Homo sapiens: one gene and its partners. The protein of the gene in region 1 interacts with the protein of each later gene in a pairwise test. Each region holds a gene or a part of one and is shown in the gene's direction. Other genes may lie near its edges.

Region 1 (3,500 bases):
AGACGGGGCTTCACCATGTTGGCCAGGCTGGTCTTGAACTCTTGACCTCAGGTGATCTGCCTGTCTCTGCCTCCCAAAGTGCTGGGATTACAGGCATGAGCCACCGTGCCTGGCCACTCTTCATGTTTTGAGACTTGTCTTCCTTCCTTGTAAACTGTTGTGGAGTAACCCGTAGTGTCCCGGCAGCCTCTGCTCATTTAGCTGTTTCTCTACTGATGGAATTGTTTTATTCTTTGAAAAAAAAATTACAGAGACATAATACAAAGCACTCAAATAGTAGAAAGGGTAATCAAGAAAATGTAATCTCTCTCATCCCTGACTGACCACGCCCCACAGCTGCCCTCACCCCAGGCAACCACATGCCTTGTGTCTCATTCCAGGGTGAGTGGATGCATATTTCTACATAAAACCCACATCCTCACTTAACCACAGATAGGTGCTGTCTGGGCATGTGCCAAGCCATGCTTTTCCCCAGGGCAATACACCTAGGGATATTCTGTATCAGTGCACAGCAAGCTGTGTCCATCTTTTTCATACCTTTATTACCTAATTTCTTTTTCTTTATTTTTATTTTGTTTGTTTGAGGCAGAGTCTTGCTCTGTCACCCAGGCTGGAGTGCAGTGACGTGACCTCAGCTCACTGCAACCTCTGCCTCCCAAGTTCAAGTGATTCTCCTGCCTCAGCCTCTTAAGTAGCTGGGATTACAGGCACGCACCACCATGGCCTGACTAATTTTTGTATTTTTAGTGGAGACAGGGTTTCACCATGTTGATCAGGCTGGTCTCAAACTCCTGACCTCAGGTGATCCGCCCGCCTCGGCCTCCCAGAGTGCTGGGATTACAGGCGTGAGCCACCGCACCCGGCCCCTAATTTCTTTAATAGGTAATGTATTTACAATGCTCAAGAATAAAATAGACAGGGAAGGAGTACAGTGAAAAATCTCTGTTCCCTTTTGGTTAAAGTTGACTCCTTCATGCCCACTCTCAGTTTTCTATATCCCATTTTAAGACTTTCTTTAAGGAGACCTATGCAAATGTGGCTCTAGATTCCTCTCTCTCCCAGTTTATATAGTCTCCCCAAGATATATAGTCTAGCCACATCCTTCTGCACTTTTTCTTTTACACTTAAAAAATGAATCTTGGGGGTCCTTTTGTCTCAGTGTGTGGAGTGCAATTGCTTCTTTCTTTATGGCTTCTATAGTATTCCACCATGCAGCTGTGGTGTGACTGTGTGGTCAGTCCCTTTGTTGACAGACACTTCGGGTTTTCTATTCCTTTGCTGTTGCGCACCCTGCTGCAAGAAATGCCACCAAGTGCATCTGTACGATATGTTTCCAGGAGTGGGACTACTGGGTGGGAGGATACATGCATTTGGGATTGTGATGTAGATTGCCAAATGCCTTCCGGAGAGGTCACACCCTTCCTGCCTGCAACAGCATGCCTCCTGGAAGGTTCCTGTTCCCACAGCCTCCCAACATGGTGATTTAACACACTTCTGGATGTGCCCCAATCGAATAGACCAAAATGATAGGTCAATGTAGTGTTATTTTCATTTCTCTCTCTCTCTTTTTTTTTTTTTTTTGAGACAGAGTCTCACTCTGTCACCCAGCCTGGAGTGTAGTGGCATGATCTTGACTCACTGCAACCTCTGCCTCCTGGGTTCAAGCAATTCTCTGGCCTTAGACTCCCGAGTAGCTGGGATTACAGGCGCCCACCACCAAGCCCGGCTAATTTTTGTATTTTTAGTAGAGACGGGGTTTGGCCATGTTGGCCAAGCTGGTCTTGAACTCCTGACCTCAGGTGATCTGCCTGCTTCAGCCTTCCAAAGTGCTGGGATTATAGGCATGAGCCATGATGCCCAGCTAATTTTTATATTTTTAGTAGAGACAGGGTTTCACCATGTCGGCCAGACTGGCCTCGAACTCCTGACCTCAGATGATCTGCCTGCCTCAGCCTTCCAAAGTGCTGGGATTACAGGCATGAGCCACCAAACCTAGCCTATTTTCAGTCTCTTATCAGTGAGGTTGACCTTTTAAAAAATGTGTTTGGGTTGTTTGTTGGTTTTTGAGACAGGATCTCACTCTGTCACCCAGGCTGGAGTGGAGTGGCACGATCAGGAATCACTGCAACCTCCGCCTCCAGGGCTCAAGCCATCCTACCACCTCAGCCTGCCGAGTAGCTGGGACTACAGGTGCTCCTCACCATGCCCAGCTAATTTTTGGTAGAGACATGGTCTCACTATATTGCCCAGGCTGGTCTCGAACTCCTGGGCTCAAGCAGTACTCCTGCCTCGGCCTCCCAAAGTGCTGAAATTATAAATGCAAGGCGCGGCGCCAGGATCTAAAAGATGTTTAAGAGCCGTTTGTATTTCCTTGTCTGTTTGTATTCTTTGCTCATTCTACTGAGTGTGGTTGGTCTTTGCCTTAATAACTGCTAGGAGTTCTGGATTATTTGCAAATATTTCTTTCCTAATTTGTTTGTTTTGCTGGGTTTTTTTCCCCCTCTCATGGTGTTTTTTTTTTTTTTTTTTTTGCCTTGCAAAATTTTGTTGTAGTGTTTTTTTTTTTTTTGCTGAATTTCTTTATTTCATTCCTCTTCCTTTTTTCTTTCTGGGTTCTGGAAATTGAATCATAGTTCAGTCTTTTTCACTCCAGTTGTATCTGTCTGGAATGTATTAACATTGTTACATATTTGTTGTATTTAATTACCTTGTTAGCTTCTATTGTGACAGATAATACAGGTTTCCCACTTCCTAGTGATTTAAGTTTCCTTTTTAAAATTAGCTTATATATGTGATATATACAAGTTCATCAATGGGGACTAGTTTAGATAAATTATGATACATCTGTACAATGGTGCATGATGCAGTGAGTAAAAAGATATCCCCCCACCCCTCAAAGAAGACAATGCAACAGCTCTGTGTATAAGGATGGACAATCTCCAGGCTACCTATTTAAGTGAAAAAAGCAAGGTGCAAAATTGTAGCATGCTATCATTTGTGTGGAAGAAGTACACAGATACAAGACACACTTATCTGAAATGCATGTGTGTGTGTGTGTGTGTGTGTGTGTGTGTGTGTGAAGTCCCTGGAGACACACATAAGAAACCACTCTTGGCCGGGCGTGGTGGCTCACGCCTGAAACCCAGCACTTTGGGAGGCCGAGGCGGGCGGATCACGAGGTCAGGAGATTGAGACCATCCTGGCTAACACGGTGAAACCCCGTCTCTACTAAAAATACAAAAAATTAGCCGGGCATGGTGGCGGGCGCCTGTAGTCCCAGCTACTCGGGAGGCTGAGGCAGGAGAATGGTGTGAACCCGGGAGGCGGAGCTTGCAGTGAGACAAGATCGCATCACTGCACTCCAGCCTGGGTGACAGAGCAAGACTCCATCTCAAAAAAATAAACAATAAACTACTCTTGATCCAGGCACAGTGGCTCACACCTGTAATCCCAGCATTTTGGGAGGCCGAGGCAGGCAGATCGCCTGAGGTCAGGAGCTC
Region 2 (4,344 bases), on another chromosome or scaffold:
TGTGGGGGAGTCACGCAGGGAGTAGGGGAATATTCTTCTGTTCTGCAAGAAGGGGCTTGTAACCTCTTTTTATAGGACTGGAAAACCTTGACACCCCCTAGTCCATAATTTGCAGCAGGTACTCCCAGGGCCTACCTGGCTCACATTCCTCACCCCTACTGTTTCTCCACACGTTTGCAGTTCTGCAAGAAGGGAGGTGTTCTCTGTGTGTTTGGGGTCCAGCAACTGTGAGGGACCCAGCAGGCCGACACCTCCCATCTGTTTCTGTCCCCAGGATTCACGTGTTTTTCAAGGGCTAACGGAAATGCTGAGATCTAAAAGCATGTTTATTGCTGCCAAGGCCTGACGATGAAACTTCAAGTCAAATTAGTAAGCTTTATTAATGACTACAAAATTTAACATGATATTGAGAAGCTACAACTCAATTTTTTTTGTCATTGTATATAGATTTTGTAAAGTTAAAATCACAAGGACAAAGTAATTTATTTTGATGAAACTCAGAATTGTTAAAAATTCTTTCACTTTTTTAATAGCACAAATGTGCGGCCTGGTGACTGGCTTCCCTGGGGGATGGCTGCTCTGTGAGGGGCTGCCAGACCCTCTGCCTTGATTCCTGTTCTTGGCCAGCCCAGGGTGGTGAGCCTGTGGAAGGAGGAGGGTAGACTGTGCCTGCCCTGGGGGTGGGAGTGGGGAGGACAAAAGACAGTGTTCCAGCTGCCGTCTGGCGTTTGCTGATTCTGAGTCACTGGATGAGAGTGAGGTGTGTGTATTTGCCTGCTGAGTGGGTGTGAATCTCACCCCGGAACCCAGGCCTGCCCAAATACCCAGGAGCTCCAAGAGCAGCCTGTGTCAGGCTTTAATCTGTGGACACAAGCTCTGTGCTGTCATTCGCGTGTCATCGTTCGTGTCTTGGGCTATCCCTAGTATCCTCGCACACAAGCTCTGTGCTGTCATTCGCGTGTCATCGTTCGTGTCTTGGGCTATCCCTAGTATCCTCGCACACAAGCTCTGTGCTGTCATTCGCGTGTCATCGTTCGTGTCTTGGGCTATCCCTAGTATCCTCGCACACAAGCTCTGTGCTGTCATTCGCGTGTCATCGTTCGTGTCTTGGGCTATCCCTAGTATCCTCGCACACAAGCTCTGTGCTGTCATTCGCGTGTCATCGTTCGTGTCTTGGGCTATCCCTAGTATCCTCGCACACAAGCTCTGTGCTGTCATTCGCGTGTCATCGTTCGTGTCTTGGGCTATCCCTAGTATCCTCGCACACAAGCTCTGTGCTGTCATTCGCGTGTCATCGTTCGTGTCTTGGGCTATCCCTAGTATCCTCGCACACAAGCTCTGTGCTGTCATTCGCGTGTCATCGTTCGTGTCTTGGGCTATCCCTAGTATCCTCGCACACAAGCTCTGTGCTGTCATTCGCGTGTCATCGTTCGTGTCTTGGGCTATCCCTAGTATCCTTGCATATTGTTTCGCCTGCCCAGAACATGTGTGTTTGAGGTTGTCTTGCTCTCTCATATAACATGTGCCTCTTGCTATCTCTTGTGTAACATATATGTTCTATATAGGACCCTGATTCTACCTTCCCCCTTCTGGAGGGACCACCCCACCCTTGGCAGGTTGGGGGAGGGCAGGACTCTATTAGGGGTCTAGAGATACCTGGGCCATTTCATCTGCACCACCAGTTCTCCTCCGTGGGAGCGTTTCTGGGTCCAGGGCTGGGCCCCTGCCAACCCCAGGGAGCACTGTCAGTGTCACACCTGGCCAATCCCCTAGCCAGGTGACCAGGCCTGTCTTTCACTCTAAGACTGCGCCTGTGAGGGGCCAGGTGCCTGCCTCCTGCGGGGCTCTGCTGACCACACTCTCAGAGGATATCTGCTGAGACCAGAGCTCACAGGCCTAGCCTGGCAGCCGTATTACTGAATAATGGCCAAGTTAGGAAGGTTCCCAGGGCTGGGGGTCCTGGGGTAGGCTTCTTGGAGGAGGTAGGACTGGAGCTGGCTGGGGTGGGGCAGGATCCATGCAAGGGGCCAGAATCTGCACATGGGCCAGGATCTGTGCATTGAGGCCAGGATCTCTGCATGGGGGCAGGAGTCTCTGCGGGGAGGACTTTTAGGGGGTAACAGGATCTGTGCAGCGTGCAGGATCTTTGCAGTGGGGCCAGGATCTGTGCAGTGGGTAGGATCTACATTGGGAGTCAGTGTCTGTTCAAGGGAGTCGGGGGACAGGACCCGTCCAGGGAGGGCAGGATCTGTACAGAGGGACCAAGATCTACGCACGGGGATAGCATCTATGTGGGGTGGGGGCACGGTCTGTGCCAGGTTTTGGGGGCACTAGATCTTTGCAGGTGTGGCCAGGATCTGTGCAAGGGGTAGGATCTGTGCAGAGTGGCCAGGATCTGTGCAGAGTGGCCAGGATCTGTGCAGGGAGGCCAGGATCTGTGCAGAGTGGCCAGGATCTGTGCAGGGAGGCCAGGGTCTGTGCAGAGTGGCCAGGATCTGTGCAAGGGGTAGGATCTGTGCAGAGTGGCCAGGATCTGTGCAGGGAGGGTAGGATCTGTGCAGAGTGGCCAGGATCTGTGCAGAGTGGCCAGGATCTGTGCAGGGAGGGCAGGATCTGTGCAGGGAGGGCAGGGTCTGTGCAGAGTGGCCAGGGTCTGTGCAGAGTGGCCAGGGTCTGTGCAGAGTGGCCAGGATCTGTGCAAGGGGTAGGATCTGTGCAGAGTGGCCAGGGTCTTTGCAAGGGGGCAGGATCTTTGCAGGGGGGACAGGTTGTGTGCAGGCAGGTGCGCAGGGTCAATGCAGGGGGCAAGGTCTGTACCGTGGGCTAGGGGTCTATGTGGGTGGGGGGCAGGTTCTGCGCAGGGGGCCTAGGCTGTTCAGCATGCCAGGGTCTGTGCTGGGGGTTTGCCGCAGGCACAAGGGAGGGAGAAGCTGTCCTGGGTTCTATGGTTATGAACATGTCAGGGCAGAATGACACAGAACACACAAGAAGTTCAAGGGAACACATTATGAGATTGTGAACACCTGGACTGGGGAGGCCACGGCCTTCTGCTGGACCCTGAACGGCTCCCACAGAGGGAGTTGAGGTCTCTATTGACTCCTGAAAGGCCAGGCAAGGCAGAGCTGGGAGCTGCCTTGGTGGGGGTGCAGGTGGCTGGTTGCTATTGCTGGGTGAGAAGGCTTGGGGTCAAAAGAGGTGGGGGTCAGGGAGCTAGGTCTGACCTCGTCCCCCCTCCTTTCTTCCTGTCCTCCTATCCCCAGCGTGTTTTCCTCCCTCTTCTCCCATCCTTCCTTACCCATCCTCTCTCTTGATCTCTCCATACTTCCTCCCCACTCCTTTCCCTTTCCTCCTCCTCCCCATCCCAACCCCTCATCCTCCCTGTCTCTGCCTGTAGGGAGGAAGCTGTGGGGTGACCCAGGTGGAAGACAGACATGCGAAGGGAGAGGTGTCTGCAGTAGCAGGGATGAGGTGCTTGTGTCCCACACTCTGCCCTGGCCTCTGACACTGGTTCCTGGTCCGGGGACATCAGGTTGGGCTCCTTTGTCCTTCCCTTACGAGGTCTCTGCTCTGCCCACCCTCAGTGCCTACAGTGCCCAGGCTGGGTCCCAGGCTGGGAGGCAGGCTCAGGAAGCTCGGGTAGGAGGGTCTAGGGTCTCCTGCTCAGACGTTGGTGAGCCCAGCTGGGGCGGAGGGCTGCAGGAGTCCGAGCCTGCCTGGATTCCTGCCCCCTCTCGGCTCCTGAGGTCAGGGGGCTCACCCTCGAGCTTTGCCTGGAGAGCGTGTTTGTGCATGTGTGTGTCCTCTGGGTGTCGGAGGGCCTTGGTCTGTGTCTGCCTGTTCCCAAAGGTGTCCATGCACACTCTAGGTCTACCCATGTGCCTGCGTGCACGTTGGCGTCATCTTGCATGTGTGTGGCCCGTGTGTTTGTGCATCCCTGTGAGTGTCTGCATTTCTGAGTGTGTACCCATCCATGTCTCTGTGTGTTCACCCGTATGCCTGTCTGGGCATCTGTGTGTGTGTTTGCAGGAATGTGTGTCCCCATGTGTCCCTTGAGTGTCTCTGTTGACGTGCCCCGTGCCTTCACACGTGTCCCTGAGTCTTGGTTGCCGTGAAGATGCAGGGAGAAATCCTGGGGGACAGCGAGGGATGCTGGGTCCTGGGGCATCTGCCTGTTCCGTCCTCTCCTGATTTGCCAGGTATCCTAGCAACGCTGCTGCCAGTTGCCTAGCAACCAGGTCCCCACTCATGGAGAAGGTGCTCGGAGCAGGGTCTGAGCTGTGTGGGGAGAGGTCTGGTTTTCCTGCAAAGCTCGTGCAGGAAGTACAACCCCATGACCGGGAGGGA
Region 3 (4,344 bases), on another chromosome or scaffold:
CAGTGGCAGGAGATGAGGTGGGCAGGCAGGCCTGGGCCCCACCAGGCAGGGCCTGTGAGCTGTGGTGTGGATGAGAAGGCTCTGCTGCAGTCTAATCTCAGTGGGCAGCCGTGAAGGAGTCTAGGCAGTATGCTAACATGATCAGGTTGTATGTTTTGCAAGACCTTTGAGCGCCGTGTGGAGAAGGACTGGGAGGGTGCAGGAATAAAGCAGGAGGCCAAATGGGGGCTGCTGCATACGTCCAGGAAAGAGATGATCGTGGCCGGGAATTAGGTGTTAAGAATGGAGAGAAATGGACAGCTTTCAACATGTATCTTGGAAGAAGAAAAGAAAACTTAGCTGTGGATTTCATGGGGGAGGGGTGGGCTTCTGCGTTAAGTGGTGGGGTGGGCGGTGGTGACATGTTTACTCATTTGAGGACAACCAAGGGAGGCACAAGTTGAAGGAGGGAAGATAAATAGACCAGTTTGGGATTGAAGATTAGCCCAGTTCAAGATGGCTGAGAGAAAACCAGGCAGATATGCCAAGTAAGCAGCTAGATATGAGTTTCAAAGCCCAAAGAGAGGCATGGACTAGAAAGAGAGACATCAGTGTCATCAGCATACAAGGGAGGTTTGAAGACGTGAGAGGCTGGGTGTGGTGGCTCATGCCTGTAATCTCAGCACTTTGGGAGGATCGCTTGAGGCCAGGAGTTCAAGACCAGCCTGAGCACATTGCAAAACCCCTGTCTCAACAACAAAAAAATTTAAACCAATTTTAAAAAATTAGCTGGGCATGGTGGCCAAGTGCCTGTAGTCCCAGCTACTCAGGAGACTGAGGTAGAAGGATCCCTTGAGCCCAGGAGTTCAAGGCTGCAGTGAGCTATGATTGTGCCATTGCACTCCAGCCTAGGCAACAGAGCGAGATCCCAGCTTTAAGACAAAATTAAAAACAAAAATAAACACATGGGAATACATGTGGAAATAGAATGAGAAGAGAAGTGAGCTTGGGCACAAGCCCTGTGCAATTCAAATCCCAAGAAGAAGAGAGAGAAGTAGGAGCTGGCAGAGGAGACAGAGAAAGGGCAGTTAGAGCAGTAGGAAGAAAATCAAGAACGTGTTGTGCACAAACCAAGAGAAAGGCTGTTTCAACACGGCAGTGGTCAGTTCTAACAGATGATGGTTCACACCTGCCCATTGGATCTGGTAACATGAAGGTCATTAATGGCCAAGGCAAGAGCATTGCCTGCAGAAGTGGACTGGACTGGGTTGGTTAAAGGCACTTTTTATTTTTTGTTTTGTTTTGTTTTTGGTTTTTGAGATGGAGTTTCACTCTTGTTGCCCAGGCTAGAGTGCAATGGCATGATCTTGGCTCACTGCAACCTCTGCCTCCCGGGTTCAAGCGATTCTCCTGCCTCAGCCTCCCAAGTAGCTGGGATTACAAGTGCCCGCCACCTCACCGGCTAATTTTTTGTATTTTTAGTAGAGACGGGGTTTCATCATGTTGGCCAGGCTGGTCTCGAACTCCTGACCTCAGGTGATGATCCACCCACCTCGGCGTCCCAAAGTGTTGGGATTATAGGTGTAAACCACCGTGCCTGCCCAAAAGGCACTGTTTGGAGCTCAAGACTAAGTTCAAATCCTGCTTCTGCCAGCTGCTGTGTATCCCCAGGCAAGTGACTTAACCTCTGTGTTTCAGTTTTGTTTGTGAAATGGTGCTAATAGTAGTACCTATGTCACAGGTAGTTATGAAAATTAAATGTGTTAATATACTTAAAGCATATATGTGCTTAGACTGTGCCTGGCCCAGTATGTTCATTACACTATCAATCACTATTGCTAATTTTAAAAAGTGAATGAGGCTCTTTCTCTCCTTATTTCCCTCCTTCCTCTTCCTGAACAATTCAGTCTTAAAGCCATTAGGTTTAACACAGAGAAGGCGGTGCCCAGAGTGGGGTGTTAGAACCCCAGCAGGGTGAGAAGGGTGTTCACACTAGGGGTGGCCTGGTACAAAGTATCATAGGCAAAGCATCCCCTGCAGGGTCAGGGATGGGGTGGTGAGGGGCCTGGCAGATACTGCCTTAAGAATAAAGAAACATTATCAGCTATGGGGCAAATTGACATCTTGCACCACCTACCAGGATGCAGTGAGAAAAATACAGCATCACATCTTGTGCTATTTCTGCCTAAGATGCATAACCTGAAGCTAGTCGTGAGGAAACATCCGACAAACCCAAATGGAGGGATGGCTACAGAATAAGTGGCCTGAATCTTCAAAAGTGTCAAGGTCATGCCAAGGAAAGACCAAGGAGCTGTTCCAGACAGAAGAGTTTAAAGAGACATGATCATTAAATACCACACAGAATGATGAACTGGATTATTTTGCTATAAATGATGCTACTGGAGTAACTGATGAAACTTAAATGGAGTCTGAGGGTTGGAGGATAGTCACATATCAATGTTAGTGTCCCAATTTTGATGGCTGTATGTTGGCTGTTTAGGAGAATTTTTTGTTTGCTTGTTTATTTCAATAGGTTTTTGGGGAACAGGTGGTTGGTTACATGAATAAGTTCTTTAGTGTGATTTCTGAGATTTTGGTGCACCCATCACCCGAGCAGTGTACATTGTACCCAATGTGTAGTCTTGTATCCTTCAGCCCCTCCTACCCTTTCCCATGAGTCCCCAAAGTCTATTGTATCATTCTTATGCCTTTGCATCCTCATTGCTTAGCTCCCACTTGTGAGTGAAAACATATGATGTTTGCTTTTCCATTCCGGAGTCACTTCACTTAGAATAATGATCTCCAATTCCATCCAGGTTGCTGCGAATGCCATTATTTCATTCCTTTTTGTGACTGAGTAGTAGTTCATTTTTTATATATATATATATATATATATATACACACACACACACACAAGTATACATATATACACACATATGTATACATATACACATATGTATACATATATACATATATGTATACATATGTGTGTATATGTGTATAGATACACACATATATACATACATGTGTGTATATATGTATACATATATATGTATATGTGTGTGTATATATATACACATCACAATTTATTTATACACTCATTGACTAATGGGCATTTGGGCTGGTTTCATATTTTTGCAATTCCAAACTGTGCTGCTAGAAACAGGCATGTGCAAGTATCTTTTCCGTATAATGATTTATTTTCCTCCGGGGAGATACCCAGTAGTGGGATTGCTGGATGAAATGGTAGTTCTACTTTTAGTTCTTTAAGGAATCTCCACACTGTTTTCCATAGTGGCTATTCTAGTTTACATTCCCACCAGCAGTGTAGAAGTGTTCCCTGTTCACCACATCCACGCCAACATTTATTTTTGTTTGTTTGTTTTTTGATTATGGCCATTCTTGCAGGAGTAAGGTGGTATCACATTGTGGTTTTGATTTGCACTTCCCTGATCATTAGTGATGTTGGGCATTTTTTCATGTTTGTTGGCTGTTTGTATATCTTCTTTTGAGAATTGTCTATTCATGTCCTTAGTGTCCAGGAGTTTTAAAAACCACACCAGAGCATTCAGGGGTGATGAGGTATGAGGTGGCAACTACTTTCAAATGGTTCAAGAAAAATATTCTTTGTACTGTACTTGCAAGTTTCCTGTACATGTGTGATTGCTTTAAGAAAAGGAAAAGGGGGAAAAAAGACGATGATGTTCTGAGACTCACTGCGTGCCTGAGGCCAGAAGGACTCATCTGCCTGCTCCATGAGATATTGTTTTCTTGGAGCTGTAGCTGATTTCTGGAGCAAGAAAGACATTGAACCTGGCTTTTCTTAAAGTGAGCCACAAAATGGGGAGTCAGGGAAGCCTGGCTTGTCCGTATCGGGTGGCCATGGGCTCTTCTTGGCAGCAACTCGGGAGTTGCAGAGCAAGGAGCTAAACAAGGGCACCAGTGCAGCCATCAGTGTACCTTGCCAGGGAGATCTAAAGCTGGTCTCTGAGGTCTGGGGAGGTCTCCACTTCTAGGTGGCGCCTGGAGAGCCGGGCCTCCCTGAAGTTACCTTGGCCTCCCAGCTTTTTTCGGCTGGGTGTAGGCGTGACAGCCCTGGCCGCCTCCAGCAGAGGGCGCGCTGCCCAATCTGTCTGGATCACGGGGACCGTGCCGGGCAGGCACACCTGTCACTCCTGGGGGCATCTGTATGACATCCCCACCCCTCCACTCTTTCTGCCATGGTTGCTGCCTGAAAAGAACTTTAGGAGTAACCTCTGGCTGGATAACTTGACTAAAATAGCTAAGCTACTCCAGAAGCAAGAGGCAAAGGCGGGTCTGAAGCTTGTGTGTGAGAAACAGAGTTTCTGACCCTTTTCTGTGGGG
Region 4 (3,889 bases), on another chromosome or scaffold:
CCTCTTCAACCACCTCCGGCTTCCAGGACCTTTCTCTTCCTCCTCCTCCAATTCCCCTCCCCCATCATTCTGGTCTTTGAGCTTTGAGACGATGGGCAGGCATCAGCTGTTGGAAACCTGGGCAGCCCTCTCAGTGGCTTCCTATCCTCCTTCTTGCTGGAGCCATGAATGGCAGGAGCTCAGTGCTTCTTGTGCAGTGCCTGGACCCAGGTATCTTACTTGGGGTCTTACTTGTACCCTTACAGTCTCTGAGAACCAGCCTCTGCTGCAGGTGAGGGTTGGGGGCAGGAAACCAGTGCTCTGAGACTGGTTCCTAGCAGCCACCTTTCTGTCAACCTGTCCGGCTTCAACAATATTAGGGGGAAGGGAAATCAGCTAGTAGCCTTCCCCTCTGGTCCCTTGTGTGGAGGCCCCAATAGTGGTTTGGCGACCCCTCCTCAGTGGCTGTCATCTAGTCCCTGCGTCTGATCTCCAGTCATCCCATGACTCAGTGTGCCTTCCACTGTCTTCTCTGGCCTCTGCCTGCCCACAGAATCCACCATGTGTGAACCAGAGAGGTCCACCAGCCTAGAAAACAGCCCTTCAGAGGGTCCTGATGAGGCCTTCCTGGACTCAGCTGGGAGCAAGATAAATTGCAACTGAGTTGCAGCTTCAAGAAAGTAAAGCCAGTAAGCTTGCTGGCAGAATCAATTTCTTCTATCCCCTCAATCCTCCCACCCACCAGGCTGGGGCACTTTCCACCAACACTCTAAACTCTACTTTAGAAACGCCCTATCTTCCTCCCTGTCCTCCTTCTTGGTCTCACACTTGGGACTCAAAAATGTGGAGTCAGGACCTGCCTCCTAATCCCCTTACTTCTCTGTCCATCTCCCTTCCCCAGCATCGTGCATCTGAGGCATTTGAGATCCTTTTTGAAGTCTGTCCAGGCCTTCCTTTTATTCCTGTGGGGCCAGACAGGGGCTTAGGAAGGGCCAAAGGACCATCATGAGGCTAAGTTGCCCCAGAGCCCCAGGATGGATGGGCCCATTTTTTCCTTATTCCCTGCTCAGTTTTTTCCCCTGCTCCTTCTCTAGTCCTTCTTTCATATTTCTCCTTCTCATCTTGAAAACAGGATGTTCCCTCTTCCCTTGCTGTCCCATTTCTCCCCTGTGTCCTTATTTCTCCCAGTCTCTATCCCCTCTCAAGTCCAGGGCAGGCCGATGCTATTGGTGCTTCTTCACTTTGGGACCCAGTTCCATATTTGTCTTTAGTGTATATCCTCTTCCTGATACCTCCTTCAGTCCCTCTCTGGGCCCCAAGGCTGAGAATCAGTGTTAACTGGGTAAGGATCATTTGCTTCCTACCCAGCTCAATCTGCCCTGGCCATAGGGCTTCCCAGGGAAGGAAGAAGAGGGAAGAATCCGACCACTTTCCAATCCAGTGCCAATTGGCCCACTAAGCATCCTAAAGGTGAATGTGCCCTGTGCCAATCTCTCCTCAGGACTGAGTCAACCCCCTTCAACCTCCTCACCTCTCTAAACACCATCCATAGTAACATGTGCATTACTGGGGTACCTAGGAGTCAGGACTTTTGACTTCAGGCCAGTCATTTCCTCCCGATGGGGAAAGGGTGAGATTTACATCCCCAAATGCTTGAGTCCCTCAGTGAAAGAATTAGTTTTTGTTTGTTTGTTTAAGATTTTGGGGAAGAGATTTGAGGAGGAAAGAAAGGAGATGGGGTGAGAGGGTTTTTAAGTCTGAAACTCTCTGTCATGAGCTGTCCCCATGGTTACTCAAGGACAAGGGGGGACAGTTTTGCCTACAGCTCCAGAGACACAGAGAACAAAGGGGTGACCTTCATTTTTCTTCAAGCCGGCCTCTGTGGGGGTCTGTGAGCAGCTTCTACTGGATCTTTGTTTGGATTCTGTGTCTGTATTTATAATTTATTTGAAATGTGCTGGGTAGTGTTCTCATTTGGGGGCTGAAGTTAGCAACTGGGCCTTCAGCTAGGGAAAGCAGTTGCGGGCAGGGGGTGGGGGGAGATTATATTCACTCCTGCCAAGGACTCCCAGCCCAGGACTCTCTTTAGAGCAAGGAAGCCTCGTTCTCTTTCTTCTCAAGAGGCTCTCTTGTTCTCCATCAGGAGAGCCTTGATTTAGGCTACGGCCTCACTCTCTATGGCCACCCTAAGAGGAAAGGCTACTTCACCTCATTACCTCCAGAGGGCTGGGCAGGGCCAAGTGCCTCATAGGACTCATGTTCTCTCCAACCAGGGCTGGCATCACTGCTTTGCAAAGTGGGGCCTGAGGTAGAAGAAGGTGTCTGGTTTCTCCAGCTGCTGTAGGAGGCTAATGGGCAGGGTACTTGCCCTTTGTCCCACTAGACTCTAACCCAGCACCAGGGTGCCCACCTAGGACCTTTCCTGGACATGAGTTTCCTTCACTATCATAGTCATGAGCCTCCTACTTCTGGGATTGCAGATCAGGGGTGGGGGGAGAATGTTGCATGTTGTTTTCTGGTGCTTGTTATTATATATTTGAATAAACAGTGCTGCAAGTACTTGCCATGAAGGATCTGAGACTGGAGTCCTTCCGGGGATTTATTTTTTCTTCCTCTCCCTTGCTTTAAGTTCTTGAACCAATATCAGGACTTTCACCAAGATATCATTCTACTGCTTTCCACTGTGCACCCCAAGCAACAAAGTCAGACTCTGTTGCTTGGGGTGCAGAGAGGAGAGCAGTTATTCCTAGCAGGCTCTGGTCTAGTGACATCTCCTCTTTTGGTGGCACCCAATTAGACCAAAGTAACTGGGACTCATTAGCAATTCTGGAGCAAACTCAAAAGGTGAGAGATAGTGGCTTCCACAAAGCTGTTTCCATTTGTTCTCCTACCATCTGTGACCCAAACAGGCTTCCTGTCAGGAGTTGAGGGCCATATGCTTCACTTTCTTAACTATCAGCTTCTTGTTGAACAAACTTGCACCTCTATCCCTCTTCAGAGAGTCACACACTACATTTACATCCCCTAGAAAAATACCTTGGGTACAATTGAACATTTAATTTTTACCTGATTCCTGGATGCCCTAGGGATCATCTGTGGGTCTCAGGTTGAGATTCCCTGCCCTCAGAGATTATTCTTGAAGTACTTACACCTTCCCTGGATGAAAAGGAGAAGAAAATCTGAGGTCTTGCTCCCCAACTTGTTTTCCCCTTAGCTAAAGGGTCAAGCGTCGGGGGTGAGGTGTGAGAGGTTGAGGAGGAAAAAGGATTAGTATTACTTTTTTAATGCGATGGCGGCGGGGGGGGGGCGGGAAATGGAGTAGGCAGACTTTTGTCTGATTGTGTGAGGGTGGGAAGAAATGTTATCAGCTGAGAAGATGAAAGAAATGGATGATTAAGGTACTTTCCAGACCTTAGCAAGGAAGATGACAGCTCTGATGAGAAATCTCCCTATGCCGAGGCTTCAGAAGCAGCCCTTCCAGCAGAGAAAGTATTCATTAGAAAAAGAAGGCAAAGTGATGGATGGAGTCAGGGTCCAGCCAGGGTTTGGGAAGAGGCTGTACAGGGTATCGATCGCAGTTCTCAAGAGAAGAGAGACAGATCAGCAGAGATGCTGCAAACACCAGCTGCCTCGGGGCCACCCCAGTTCTGGGGCTGGCTCTGGCTCGGAGACAGCCTTCTGTCATCCTGTCATCATGACAGGTGATCTTGGTCAGCTTGGCCAGGTCCTCTCAAATCCAGACAACGCCACGCCAACCCTCTGCTCTGCATCAGGGCAGCGTGGGTTTCCCACAGAGGAGGCACGACACGGGAGCCGAGGCCCTCCCCCACACCACCCCTGTGTCCTTCAGCACCTCCTACAGACTCCCTCCCCTTGCCCTTCTGATTCACAGCGCCCACCTCCCTGCACC
Region 5 (4,125 bases), on another chromosome or scaffold:
CAGCCTGAGTCAAGCAGCAGGCATCTGCAACGTCTGCCTTTTGTTTCTATAAATAATTAAAATAGGAGGACCAAACCATACCAGAGATACAACCCCCTGAGATCACTACCCCCCCTCATGGAGTAACAAAATACTTTTTCTTGGAATGTAGTAATCTGTAACCTACCAAATAGCTGTAAGTATGCACTGGTCTCTTAGGGGAAATGAAATCCTGTTAAAATTTGTCTCTGGCCACCTAGGCGAAACCCTAACTTCTTCACTTTGGAATGCTAACCCCATTTGGAGCTGGTGTCTCCTGGGTGGCTACCCTCAAGCCTTACGCTGGAATAAACTCTATCCTTAATCATATTTCCAGAACCTCACTATTTAAGGTTGACAGGAGAGGGAAGCGGTGATGTCTTGAGATAAAGCTGAATAAAGTTTCTCAAGAAAAAAAGGGAAAGGAACCTCTAAGCTGTACGTTGTTTTCTAACTCTAGGGAGTTAGAGGTGAAGTAGGAACTTGAAGTTGGAAGTGTTGAGTTGGACAGCCCTCATCTCTAGGCAATACTTTCATAAAGTGGAAAAACGGGGGAAGAGGACGAAGGCTAGGGAGAGACGCAGGGATCTACCCAACCCAGTCCTGAGTTTCCCACTCGCTCTTGGAGTTGAGTACAAAGAGCGCTCCAAAGCCCCTTCTCCTGTGCTCAGCCCAGTGCTCCGGTGGGTCAGGTCTCCGGAATGCGTAAACAAAAGCAAACAGCTGAGCGGCGGAGGGCGCAGGCGACAGATGTGGGTGTTCCCTGAGAATGTGTGGCGACTTCCCGGAGCAGCGGGTCTGTGAGGCAACGATGGAAGACACTGCGCTCCACAGCATAGCAGGAGGCCCCGCCCCGTGTGGCGCCAAGTAAAAGATAATTCCTCAGAAGCCGTCGGCCACCGGCGCTTCGCCTCGTCCCGCGCCAGGCCCAGCCTCTCCCCCAGACCACCGGTGCCATGCGGATTCCCCAGGCGGGACCCCAGCTCACGAGGCCCACTGGCCGAAGCTCCCCACAGGATAGAGAGCCGCTCCTGCGAGGCCAAGCTTCCGAGAGGCGGCCTGCGCCTAGCACGCAGGCGCGGAAAGCTGGGCGCCAGCCTTAAACTGACTCCCGCCACCTGCCTCGGGCCGCGCCGTCCACCGTTTACTTTCGAACGAGCCCAGCAATAGTTCCCATTGGCCGATGCCTTGCAGTTGAATGTTGCCTGCAGACTGCGCCTGCGCTGCGAGGCTCCGCGAGGCCCCGCCCGGTCTGGGCACCTGAAGCCCTTCGGGGCAGAGGAGGGCGGGGACTCGGGGCGGCTCTCAGCATCCGCCTGGAGCTCGTGGCGCTGTGTTTCCGTGCTGTGGAGTTGCCTGGTCCGCTTCCTCCCCGCGGTGAGTCTAAGGACCTTTACGGATGCGGAGAAGGTGGTTCTGAGTCCTTTTTCTTTTCCTGTAGCACAGTCTGGTGTGCCTAGTGTGTTGGGCGGGGAGTCCTGGGGGCGCGACGATGGAGGGAGTGGCTTGGGACCTGCACTCATTCCCTCTTGTCCCATACTGGAGTTTGGGGAGCCACTTTCCCGTCCCTCCACTGTGGAGCTGCGTTCCTGTGAGGGAGGAGGCCCTCTGTGGTGGCGAGGGTGAGCTGAGCGGACGCCGCCGAGTCGGTCAGTCCCGCGGGGTTGGGGACGGGCGGGTGCCGAGGTGGAGGCGCGTTAGGAGGGAGGCCTGGGAGAGTGGAGCTTTGAGAAGGGGAAGGGAAGAGTACTGCCATTTTGAGCCCCTTTGTGGGAGGTGCTCGCAGGACTTAAGTGAGGTAGGTGCAGTTACCCATTTTACAGATGTGAAGCCTCACTTTTGAGAGGTATTTGGTAATACTGACCCAGGTCCCACAGCATTGAAATGGCAGAACAGAGAGATGAGCAAACTATACTAAATCAGTTATAATTTAGAGCTGGCAAGGTATTTTACTCCCATGGATGCTTTTGTCTTGCAGTTAATTTTAAGCACTCTAAAATGACCGTGAATGTTTTTTCTGCCATCACCATTGTTGGGTAATATTGTCGAGAGCTCATAAGCTACTTGACGTTGTGAAAAGAGGTCCTTTGTGACAGTCTGTTTGGTCAGAGTTAGGATTTTCAAGGAACAAGCGATACCTCTACTGCAGCTCCAGCAACTGTGTTGGTGTTTGTGGCTTTTCTGAAAACACGATGAAGCATCGTGAAGATAAATATCAAAGACAGTGAACTAACAACCATTTTTATGACATGAGACAATAAATTGAAAACATTAAAGATAACATTATTTTAATTTTAGAATAAGAATAAAAGATTCTGGAGGAGTTGGAGAAGAGTGTATTCAGCCCCCAAACCACGAGATCAACAAAGTAGGTAATCTGGGAGATTAAATAAATATGAAAAACAATTAAGTTTTTACAGAGTGTATGATTTAAACTACAAAGTGAAATTTAGAAGTCTTTTGAAAAAACATTGTGTTGGCGGTGTATAAAACTCCAACCATTTTATCGAAGGAGCGGAGCATAAAGTGAAAAATAAACAACTCCCTTCTCTGATCTGTACCTTAAAAGTAGTCACTTAACTCTTTTGTACATCCTTCTAGAAATTTTACAAGAATGTGTACATCTCAAAACACATGCAAAGTTGTTATTTTATACATACAGATCTGCAGAACTACACAAAACTGCAAATTAAGTTACCTGGATACTTTTTCACTATGCATTCATGTATTGGTCTTTTTAAATGAGTAAGTAGCTATTTAATCTGGCAAGGTGAAATTTTGATTTTAGGTGATGTTAGTTTTGACATTGCCTTTCACTAAACACGTTGATGAATATTTCCCACCAGATATATTTTTACTTTGAAAAGTACAGCAAAAGCAATTAAAGCCTTAATTTCTCAAGTCAATTCCGGTTAAATTGAATTAATAGTCTTTTTTTGTTTTGTTTCTAGTTTTTATTTTTATTTTTTAGTTTAGGGAAACAGGTTGATATCAAAATGAAAGAAAATAGTACAGATGGACAAAGAGATTTAAAATCAGCTGACCATAGGATTTTTTTAATTTGAAAAAGTTAAGGTGATCTCTCACTATTTTTGTATATTTATATGTGACAGAATTATTTTTAAAAATCTTGTTTCTCAGACTTTCTGCGATAATGTTAAAAAAATCTTATATATGTTTATAAATGGTGCAGTTGTAGTTATTTCTTAAGTAAGTCTTGACTTGCATGAAATGTATTTCTTCTTTATCAGTTAGGTCCACAAAGATGTGAGCCCCAGTTTGGGTGGTGGCACCACTTGAATTTTCCCATACTTAAAGCTGACTCACTAGAAGTCTTGGGACAAGTCATCGAATTCTATAATGTAATAAATATATTTTCCTTTCAGAGGTTGTGAAATGTAATGAACGTTTTACAACTGTTCATGTTTAGAGTTGAAAGGCAGGAAAGCATTAGTGAATTAAAACTTAAAAACTGGTTTACACAGGAGAATGGGTAATGATATTTTCGGTGCTATTTAATCATCTATTATACTGTCTATTACCTAATATGCCAGTTAGACATCAGGGAGGCTCACTAGTGAATTGGCCCTCTGGAGAAAGACTTAATAAAAAGTTTGGAAATTCAGAAATGTATTTGTTTTGACACTTAAACACACTAGACATTAGTGAAATAATTTGTAAGTAGAGTGATTTAGCCTCAGGTTTCTTTCTGAGAAGATTCATTTTTTTATATTAATATTTCTCGGTTTTAAAAGAGAAGCAGGAAATCTTGAACTTGGTTTTTACATGAGCTTAGTACTCACTAGAGGAAAATACATTTTACATGGATTATTTTACTTTTTTGCTTTTTAAAAACATACAGTAGTATAAATTGATTCAAATTCATTTAGCAAAAGGAAGACTGGATAATAGGCAAGACGCTTGAAAATTTTTTAAAGTTTTTTTTTTATTGTGTAAAATATGCTAAACATAAAATTTACCATTTTAATCTTTTTAAGTATGCAGTTTGGTGGTATTAAATACATTCAAATTGTTTTGTAATTATCACCATCAACTATCTCCGTTAACTTTTTCATCTTCCCAAACTGAAACTGTGTACCCATTAAA
Region 6 (4,344 bases), on another chromosome or scaffold:
GGCCCCAGTAAGGTTTGGGGCTTTGTCCAGAAGCACAGAGGAGGTGATGAGGGCTCAAGCATCTGTTCACGTTGAAGTCTCTCTGGCCAAATGTGGAGAAGCTATTAGGAGGATTCAAATTGAGGATGAAAAACTCACAGGTGACCAGGCCTCTCCTGGCTTGGAGACCTGGCTGGCTCCCTTGGTCCTTGATAAAGGTTAGAGTCCTGGCCTGGCACCCAGGGCCCAGGACAGTGTGCTCTGCCTGCCTGTCCGTGGCCCTCCACTCCCCTCTGCCTCCACACCCCATAGCCACCCTCTGTGCTGAAGCCACAACAGGCTCCCCTCCCTGAGGCACTGTGTACACGCTGTCCCTCCCCCAGCCACCTTCCCCTTCTCCATCCATCAGACTCCTTGGGCAGGGTGAGCCGCTCCTCCTCTGTCTCCCCATTTCTTTGTAGGTGTCGGATTGAGGCCCTTCTCTTTCCCAAGACAGTAATCCTAGAGAGTGCAGGGCAGGAAGTAGTCCCAAGAGTGAGGGAGGTTTTTAGCGACAGCACAAAACGGAAGGGACTGAGTGTCCACCAGGAGGAGTGTGGCTTAGTGGGCCTCCCAGAGCCTTGACTTTGCTGACGGGTTCAGTGTCTCCCGTTGGGAGGGGGCCCCAGAGACAGTTGGTGAAATGTGAGTGCATCCAGCCCTGGAGTTGGTCGGCCTTGTACACGAGGCTGGTGGTTTGCTTTCCCCGGATATGTCAGGTGGAGGCTGACTCCTGGGAGGACGGGGTGAAGGACGGGGTGCAGGACAGGTAGGATTTGACGGCTGGGTGGATGGGGCTCCACGGGAGAAGGCCATGTGTGGGCCTCAGAAGAAGCTGCAGAAGAGGCACTTGTCTCCCACTGTGGGCAAGAGCTCGCCCCTGAGACCTGGAGCTGGGGACTGAGGGCTGCGGGGGTGTCTTGCAGGTTTACTTCAAGGACACCCATCCCAAGTTTCCCGCTGGAGGGAAGATGTCTCAGTACCTGGAGAGCATGCAGATTGGAGACACCATTGAGTTCCGGGGCCCCAGTGGGCTGCTGGTCTACCAGGGCAAAGGTGATTCGGGTCGGAATCCCTTGGTTACACGGCAGGCTCAGAGAATTGGAGAGCTTGGGCGTGCTGGGTGCAGGGTGCAGGCCCCTGGCTCTGTGTGGATGGGTGACTCTCGTCAGGCCAGCTGTCCCTCTCTGGGAACTGAGTCTCCCTGGCTGTAGAGGGGGTAAGTTGCTGGCACAGGGGTTGCAGACAGGCCACTCCTGGGGGCCACGTCTCACCCACTGCCAGCCTCTATTTGGCTTTCTCAGCATCTGAAACAAGCAAGCAAGAGGACAGAGCTGAGCCTCCGGGTTCCCAGCCTCTCCACTGCTCCTGCACCTTCCTCATGGCTCGCGTTAGAATGGCAGCTGCCTCTACCTCGGACCTCACAGTGGGGGCAGGTTCTCCAGCCCCCTCTCCAGCCTCTCCAGCCACCACACATGGCATGTTTGATGGCCGGGCCTCACCCCTTCTCTCTCCCCAGGGAAGTTCGCCATCCGACCTGACAAAAAGTCCAACCCTATCATCAGGACAGTGAAGTCTGTGGGCATGATCGCGGGAGGGACAGGTACACGGAACCCCCCACTGAGGCGTCCGGCGGCTCATGTTAAGGGTGGGGTTGGGGTGTGGGTGAGGCGCAGGTTCTGAGTGCCTGGGAGCTACCAGAGGTCAGGGGCCCAGGCCCAGTGGTCCTGGCCCCTCCACCCCAGTACACCTGGGCGGGGCGGTGCCTGTGAACAGGCCTCGCTCAGCACGTGCGAGGCCCGGCCGGCTATTTTGCAGGCATCACCCCGATGCTGCAGGTGATCCGCGCCATCATGAAGGACCCTGATGACCACACTGTGTGCCACCTGCTCTTTGCCAACCAGGTCAGTGGGCATCCCCATGATGGGGAAACTCAGCTTACCCTGAGAGGGGACTTCGGGCCTGGTCAGGTGCTGTTCCAGGGGTCTGCACAGCTCTGCTGAGATTCTGGGGATGACCGGGATGGGGGGCCCTGAATGTTCTGTGCACTGGCGGCCTTGGCAGCAGCACGGCGGGCAGGCTTTGTGGTGCAGCGCCTGTGTCTGGCTGAGGGGGCTGCCTTGCGGGGAGCTCCCTGAGCACCCCCTCCCCTGGCTGCTTCCTCCAAAACTCAGAACTCCCTTCACCATGAGCACGGTGTGGAACCCACTGGTAGAGTGGGAAGAATGCTGGCCTGGACATGGAGGGGCCCATCTTACAAATGACCAGACATTTGCACGAAGCCCCTGAGCTACAGGGTGTCAGGGCAGGATTTGAATGTTGGTGTCTCTGGCTCCTGATTCATATCCTTGTCCACGAGCCCACTGCCTGCCTGCCCGCCCTGGCCTGCTGTGTGGTCTTGGACGAGCTACTTTCCCTCTCTGAGCTTCACTCCCTCATCTGTAGAATGAGCTGATGAAACTGGGTTGTTGCAAGGTCTTTTCAGGTTAGTGTTTTGTGACTGATGACGTAGATTTGGGGGAGAAGATGCTTGCCTGAGGTCCTTGGATGTGGGTCCTTGCCCCACCCTGCCTCCCCGCAGCTGCAGAAAACTGCCGCAAGGCCAACCAAGATGGCCTTGCCAGGCCCAGGGGAGAAAGAGCCAGAAATTCTAAGCTGGCTGGTGTGGAGGGAGAGAGGGCAGCAGTGAGACTTGGTGGTGCTGGTTCAGAGTCTGTGGAGGCCGTCAGACCGTCTGTCACCTGTACAGGCCATCTTTGCAGCTGGTAGCGAGGGCAGTGTGGTCGCCTCATCTCATACCTCCGAACACAGGCTCCGGGAGGGGCTTGACTGTGCATGTCTCGTGGGAAGTGCTGAAACCAGGATGCAAACCAGGGTTTTATTTATTTATTTATTTTGATACAAAGTCTCGCTCTTGTCCCTCAGGCTGGAGTGCAATGGCACAATCCTGGCTCACTGCAACCTCCGCCTCCCGGGTTCAAGTGATTCTCCTGCCTCAGCCTCCCGAGTAGCTGGGATTACAGGATGTGTGCCACCATGCCCGGCTAATTTTTATATTTTTAGTAGAGATGGGGTTTTACCATGTTGGCCAGGCTGGTCTCGAACTCCTGACCTCAGGTGATCCACCCGCCTCAGCCTCCCAAAGTGTTGGGATTACAGGCGTGAGCCACAGTACCCAGCCTATTTTTATTTTTAAAAAACTATTTTAGAAAACATCATTCTGTTTTACGTTTTTGCAAACCTTGGAATGTCTGGCTTCATAGGACAGCTAGATTCCTGTGTTTGTTTCTACATCCCATCTGTGTGATGTTGCCAGTCACGCAGCCTCTGGAAAGTGGCCCCATCTACTGAGAGAGGAAGAGTGAAAAATACCAGTGTCTCAGTATTATATGAAAACCATTTGGCCTCAGGGATCCTCTCCAGGGTCCCAACCCCAGGGGTCCCCATGCTACACTCCGAGAACCGTGCCAGTCGGGTCATTGCTGCTCGTTTCCTCTCCTACCTTCCTCCGTGACCTCAGTGCCTGGTTTTGAGCTGGGAGCCCCCTACCCTCGAGTAGCAGCCCCCCAAGGTTCCATCCCTCTGTTCATCTGTCAGGTGGGTCGCGGCGGTGGCCACCTCAAAGGATGGTGGTGAGGATTAAAGCATGAGACACACTTTAGCTCAGAGAGGAAGACATAACTTTTTTTAAAAAAATTGAGACGGAATTTCACTCTTATTGCCCAGGCTGGAGTGCAATGGCGTGAATCTCGGCTCACTGCAACCTCCGCCTCCCGGGTTCAAGCGATTGTCCTGCCTCAGCTACCTGAGTAGCTGCGATTACAGGTGCCCGCCACCACATCCAGCTAATTCTTTATATTTTTAGTAGAGACGGGGTTTCACCATGTTGGCCAGGCTGGTCTCGAACTCATGAGCTCAAGTGATCCACCCACCTCAGCCTCCCAAAGTGCTGAGATTACAGGCATGAGCCACCATGCCTGGCCTAAAAAGAAAGTTACACATAGTTAATAGAAAAAGAAAAGTGAAAAGATGCACACAAAAATCCTAACAGTCATTATTTCTGAAGGGTTTCAGGTACTTTTTCTTCCATATTTTCTGTATTTTTTTCCTTGAGTTCATCTAGCCCAAAGCCTGTCCCTGTCCCTGTCCTCACCCCATTAGGGCAGAAAGGGCCCTCAGCCTCCCACCCTCAGAAACTGGAAAAACTGTTCAACACCCCGTGTTCCCTGGGATGTGTTGAGGCTTATGCCCCTCACACAGCTCATCTGCTGGAGGGGAGCACCAAGGAGCTGGTGATTCCCGTATTCAGGCACCCTTGGGCTACGC
Region 7 (4,344 bases), on another chromosome or scaffold:
CAGGCTCATTATGGCTGTGGGTAGTCAGGAAGGGAACCTGGTGGGAGGGTGTTAGCACCTGGGTCAGGGTGAACCTGAGTGAGGCTTGAATCAGGGAACTTTGAGATTTCCCAGGACTAACATCCTCCTCTCCCTTTGGCCAGTGAGACCTCTTTATCTGTGCTCCTGCTAGTGGCTTATATCTCTTGGTGCCTTCACCAGCCTCCCTGCCCTTTCCCACTGGTTGCTTTTCTTTTCTTTCTTTTTTTTTTTTGAGACTGAGTTTCACTCTTGTCACTCAGACTGGAGTGCAATGGTGCGATCTCGGCTCACTACAACCTCCGCCTCCCGGGTTCAAGAGATTCTCCTGCTTCAACCTCCCAAGTAGCTGGGACTACAGGTGTGCGCTATTATGCCCGGCTAATTTTTGTATTTTTAGTAGAGATGGGGTTTCACCATGTTGACCAGGCAGGTCTCGAACTCCTGACCTCAGGCGATCCGCCCACCTCGGCCTCCCAAAGTGCTGGAATTACAGGCATGAGCCACCGTGTCAGGCCCCGCACCTGGCCTTTTCTTTTGTGCTTCGAGGGCTTTAAACTGGAGATTTTGCCTGATTCTAAGGGGCAGGAGTGGAGTCGTGGAGAGGGAGATAGAAGAATAGATTCGTAAGAGATGTTTTTCACTTGTCTCTTGGAGGTGAGTTTTTAATGAAAATGTCTAGAAACCTTAAAACCTTAAACACTGATGCTGTGAACCTGACAAAGTGCTTGGGAAAGCTGTCCCCTCTCCCTCCCAATTCAGGGATGGCTTCTCTTCTAAGCTCTGGTCTTGAGCTCTCTTGCCCTCCTCCTTAATCCTACAGAGACTTGTTGATTATCATGGTATCCTTTCCGTCCTTCTTCCCTTCTCAGTGGTATAATTTTCCCCATTTGACAGGTGAGACCACTGGTGAAGTGAGGTTGAGGTTGCTGGCTACCAGGCTGCTGATTATAATCAGCACCTATCCCTGTGGTGGACTGCCTGCCCTTCCTGCTGTGTTCTGCCATTTGCAGCCCAAGTCAGTGGACTTCAGCCAGAGTGCCAGAGAGAGCTCTGACACCACCTTCACTGTTCCCTCTTTTCTCTCAGCAGACTCTAAGCCGTATTTCCTCTTCCTTTGGGAAGTGGTTAAGACTATGGGCTTTGGAACTAGACCAACTTGGATTTTACTCCTGCCATATCTTTCCCTGGCTTTATGGCCATGGAAAATATTGTGGGTTGAATTGTGTTTCCTTAAAAAAGATATGTTGAAGTCCTAACCCCAGGTACCTCAGATTGTGACCTTGTTTGGAAATGGGGTCATTGCAGGTGTAATTAGTGAAGATGAGGTCATACAGGAGTAGGGTGGGCCCCTAATCCAACATGGCTGGTGTCCTTCAAGACGATGACCATGTGAAGACACAGAGAGAGCACACCTTGTAAAGATGGCAGCGGAGAGTGGAGATTGGATGCCTCTACGAGCCAACGAACTCCAAGGATTGCTGGCTGTCACCAGAAGCCAGGAGAGAGGCATGGAACAGATTTCCTCACCACTCGTAGAAGAAGGAGCCAACCCTGCCAACACCTCAATTTCAGACTTCTAGCCTCCAGAACTGTGAGAGAAGACATTTCCGTTGTTTTAAGCTGTTCGGTTTGTGGTACTTGCTACAGTAGTCCTAGGAACACAGAGAGCAGAAAGTTTATTGAGCTTTCTGAGCTTCGGTGTCCTCATCTGTAAAATTGCTGTAACACACTCTATGTCATGTGGTTTTTGGTGACAATTAAGTGACAAGCAGCTTCTGCTTTCTTATTCTAGTGTAGAAAAGCAAGGCTGACATAGCTGACTTGTCTTTGCTCTCTTTGCTTCTCCCTTTAGCTGAGTGAGGAGTTGGTCCAGGTGGTTGAGAACTCAGAGCTGGCAGACGAGCAGGACAAGGAGACGGTCAGAGTCCAAGGTCCGGGTATCTTACCAGGTGAGTGCGTTTGGTGCTTTGCTGTGCTGTTGCTGCAGCTGGACACCCCAGTCTAGGCGCCTTGCCAACTGTGGGAGAGGAGGAGCCCCCTTCCCTGCACCCTGGTGTCAGGTCTCAAGTATTGCCCTAGTTTTAAAGCCATACATATTTAACCAGCCTTGGAACAGAGGATATGTCTAGGCTGGTATCTGCTCTTAACTCCAATTTGAGCCACTTCCTGAGGTCAGGTCATTGCATACAATGGCAAATGCTTTGGATCTCTGCTCTTCTGTTCCTCTTTCCCTGGAAACTGCTAGCAGGTGAGCCTCTAATATCCGGGTCAAAGAAGATCTAATAGGCCCCCTCTTTCAGATACTAGGCCTGTCCAGTAATGCTGCTCAGTTGGGTAAGCAGGGTCCCATCAGTCAGTTGGCATCTTATGGAGCCCTACGGCAATGTTTGACACTGCTGACTACTTCTTCCGCCCGGATACACGCTGCTCCCTTAGCTTCTGTGATGCAGCATTTCTCAGGCCACTCCTTCCAGGCTCCATTGCGGTCACTCTCCAGCTCTTGGGCATGAAATGTTGGTTGCAGGCCCCTTTCTCTCACTCTCATAGACAGTTCTACCCAGGCCTGCTCCCTTGCTTCAGCCACTGCTTGCTCACACGTGACTCCCATGTTTACATCTCTAGCCCAGAGGTTACCTACAAACCGCAAATTTATATATCCTGTATTTCCAACTGCCCATGTCATAGTTCTGCTTGGATCTCCCAAAGCTTCCCTCAACTCCACATGTCCAAAATTGACCTCATGATCATCTCAGTCCCAGCTTGGTCCTCTCCCAGTATTTCCTGTTTGCAGGAATGGTACTACCACTTAACGCAGTTGAACTTCAGAGTAGTTCTCCATTCCTTCCTTCCTCTCATCCCCTTTTTCTCTGGCCCTCAGCCATGCTGATCTTTTTTTATTTTAGGCCTCATTCCCTCTCACCACAGGGCCTTTTTGTTGTTTTATTTCTCTGCCTGGAATTCACTTTCCTTCTTCACATAGTTAATGCCTAATCATTCTTCAGCTTTCAGCTCACTCATTTTTTTCCACAGAGCCTTCTCTAACCTTCTGGCCAGATTACCTCCCACCCTCCAGCACCGTCTCATAGTCCACGCGCCTCTCCTTTCCGGCTATTGCTGTTGGAATGGTGCGTTTGTTTGTCTGACTAATGTCTGTCTGTTCTACTACAGCAGTCCCCAACTTTTTGGCACCAGGGACCGGTTTGTGGAAGACAATTTTTCCACAGATGGAGGTTGGGGGATGGTTTCAAGATGAAACTGTTCCACCTCAGATTATCAGACATAGTTAGATTTTCATAAGGAGCACACAACCTAGATCCCTTGTATGTGCAGCTTACAATAGGATTTGCACTCCTATGAGAATCTAATGCTGCAGCTGATCTGACAGGAGGTGGAGCTCAGGTGGTAATGCTCACTCACTGCTCACCTCCTACTGTATTGGCCCAGTTCCTAACAGGCCATGGACCCGTATTGGTCTGTGGCCTGGGGGTTGGGGACCCCTGTTCTACTAGAATGAAACTCCCTGAGGGCAGAGACCAGTCTGTTTTGCTCACCAGCCTAGCCTTGACCACGCCATAAAGATTTGTTGAGTGAATGAATGAAGCCCCAGCCTGACTTCAACTTCTTGGATGGATCCCATCTGTTTGTGGGAGAGGGGAACAAGACAGGAACTAATGTGGTTCTGCCTGCTCCTTACAGAAGACTGCATGGAAGGGACCGGGCACGGTGGCTCATGCCTGTAATGCCAGCACTTTGGGAGGCTGAGGCAGGTGGATCACCTGAGGTCAGGAGTTCAAGACCAGCCTGGCCAACATGGTGAAACCCTGTCTCTACTAAAAAATACAAAAATTAGCCAGGTGTGGTGGCACATGCCTGTAATCTCAGCTACTTGGGAGGCTGAGGCAGGAGAATCGCTTGAACCCAGGAGGCGGAGGTTACAGTGAGACGAGATCATGCCACTGCACTCTAGCCTGGGTGACAAGAGTGAGACTCTGCCTCAAAAAAAAAAATAAAATAAAGTAAAAAAAGACTGCCTGGAAGGAAGGAGGCTGGAAGGGCAGCTAACATTTCCTGACTGCTTCTCCTGTGCCAGGATCTGTCGTACCCCATTTGCCCCATTTAATTCTCACATCAACCCTGTGAAGTGGTTATCCCCCTTTTACAGATGAGGCCCCCAACCTCAGGGAGGTTGAGTAAAGCATGGGGAGGTCATATAGCTGGTAAACACAGACTGAGTCAAACTCTGCCCAACCCTAAACTCTCTCTACTACACCAGTGGTGTTTTCTTTTTTTTTTTTTTTTTGAGATGGAGTCTCACTCTGTCAC

The links.
Region 2: the proteins of PLLP (region 1) and OPRL1 interact in a two-hybrid assay, tested with the Homo sapiens proteins (one large-scale study listed by BioGRID and IntAct).
Region 3: the proteins of PLLP (region 1) and GOLT1A interact in binary tests that used the Homo sapiens proteins (3 or more experiments, as listed by UniProt).
Region 4: the proteins of PLLP (region 1) and SYPL2 interact in binary tests that used the Homo sapiens proteins (3 or more experiments, as listed by UniProt).
Region 5: the proteins of PLLP (region 1) and TRIM59 interact in binary tests that used the Homo sapiens proteins (3 or more experiments, as listed by UniProt).
Region 6: the proteins of PLLP (region 1) and CYB5R3 interact in a two-hybrid assay, tested with the Homo sapiens proteins (one large-scale study listed by BioGRID).
Region 7: the proteins of PLLP (region 1) and PACC1 interact in binary tests that used the Homo sapiens proteins (3 or more experiments, as listed by UniProt).

Annotation. Positions count from the first base shown.
Region 1 is NC_000016.10:57,274,673-57,278,172, reverse strand, and holds part of PLLP (plasmolipin), read left to right. Parts: intron 1-3,500. UniProt on the Homo sapiens protein: Main component of the myelin sheath that plays an important role in myelin membrane biogenesis and myelination. Plays an essential function in apical endocytosis. Regulates epithelial development through the regulation of apical endocytosis.
Region 2 is NC_000020.11:64,086,231-64,090,574, forward strand, and holds part of OPRL1 (nociceptin receptor), read left to right. Parts: exon of another isoform or gene 1-348; coding exon of another isoform or gene 349-369; intron 370-3,394; exon of another isoform or gene 3,395-3,529; intron 3,530-4,344.
Region 3 is NC_000001.11:204,207,011-204,211,354, reverse strand, and holds part of GOLT1A (vesicle transport protein GOT1A), read left to right. Parts: intron 1-4,344. UniProt on the Homo sapiens protein: May be involved in fusion of ER-derived transport vesicles with the Golgi complex.
Region 4 is NC_000001.11:109,479,586-109,483,474, forward strand, and holds the end of SYPL2 (synaptophysin-like protein 2), read left to right. Parts: 3' UTR 1-532; coding exon of another isoform or gene 533-548; 3' UTR 549-2,549; downstream 2,550-3,889.
Region 5 is NC_000003.12:160,446,987-160,451,111, reverse strand, and holds the start of TRIM59 (tripartite motif-containing protein 59), read left to right. Parts: upstream 1-1,325; 5' UTR 1,326-1,395; intron 1,396-2,316; 5' UTR 2,317-2,386; intron 2,387-4,125. UniProt on the Homo sapiens protein: E3 ubiquitin ligase involved in different processes such as development and immune response. Serves as a negative regulator for innate immune signaling pathways by suppressing RLR-induced activation of IRF3/7 and NF-kappa-B via interaction with adapter ECSIT.
Region 6 is NC_000022.11:42,624,882-42,629,225, reverse strand, and holds part of CYB5R3 (NADH-cytochrome b5 reductase 3), read left to right. Parts: intron 1-944; coding exon 945-1,074; intron 1,075-1,537; coding exon 1,538-1,621; intron 1,622-1,836; coding exon 1,837-1,922; intron 1,923-4,344. UniProt on the Homo sapiens protein: Catalyzes the reduction of two molecules of cytochrome b5 using NADH as the electron donor.
Region 7 is NC_000001.11:212,408,051-212,412,394, reverse strand, and holds part of PACC1 (proton-activated chloride channel), read left to right. Parts: intron 1-1,873; coding exon 1,874-1,970; intron 1,971-4,344. UniProt on the Homo sapiens protein: Chloride channel gated by pH that facilitates the entry of chloride ions into cells upon exposure to extracellular acidic pH. Involved in acidosis-induced cell death by mediating chloride influx and subsequent cell swelling.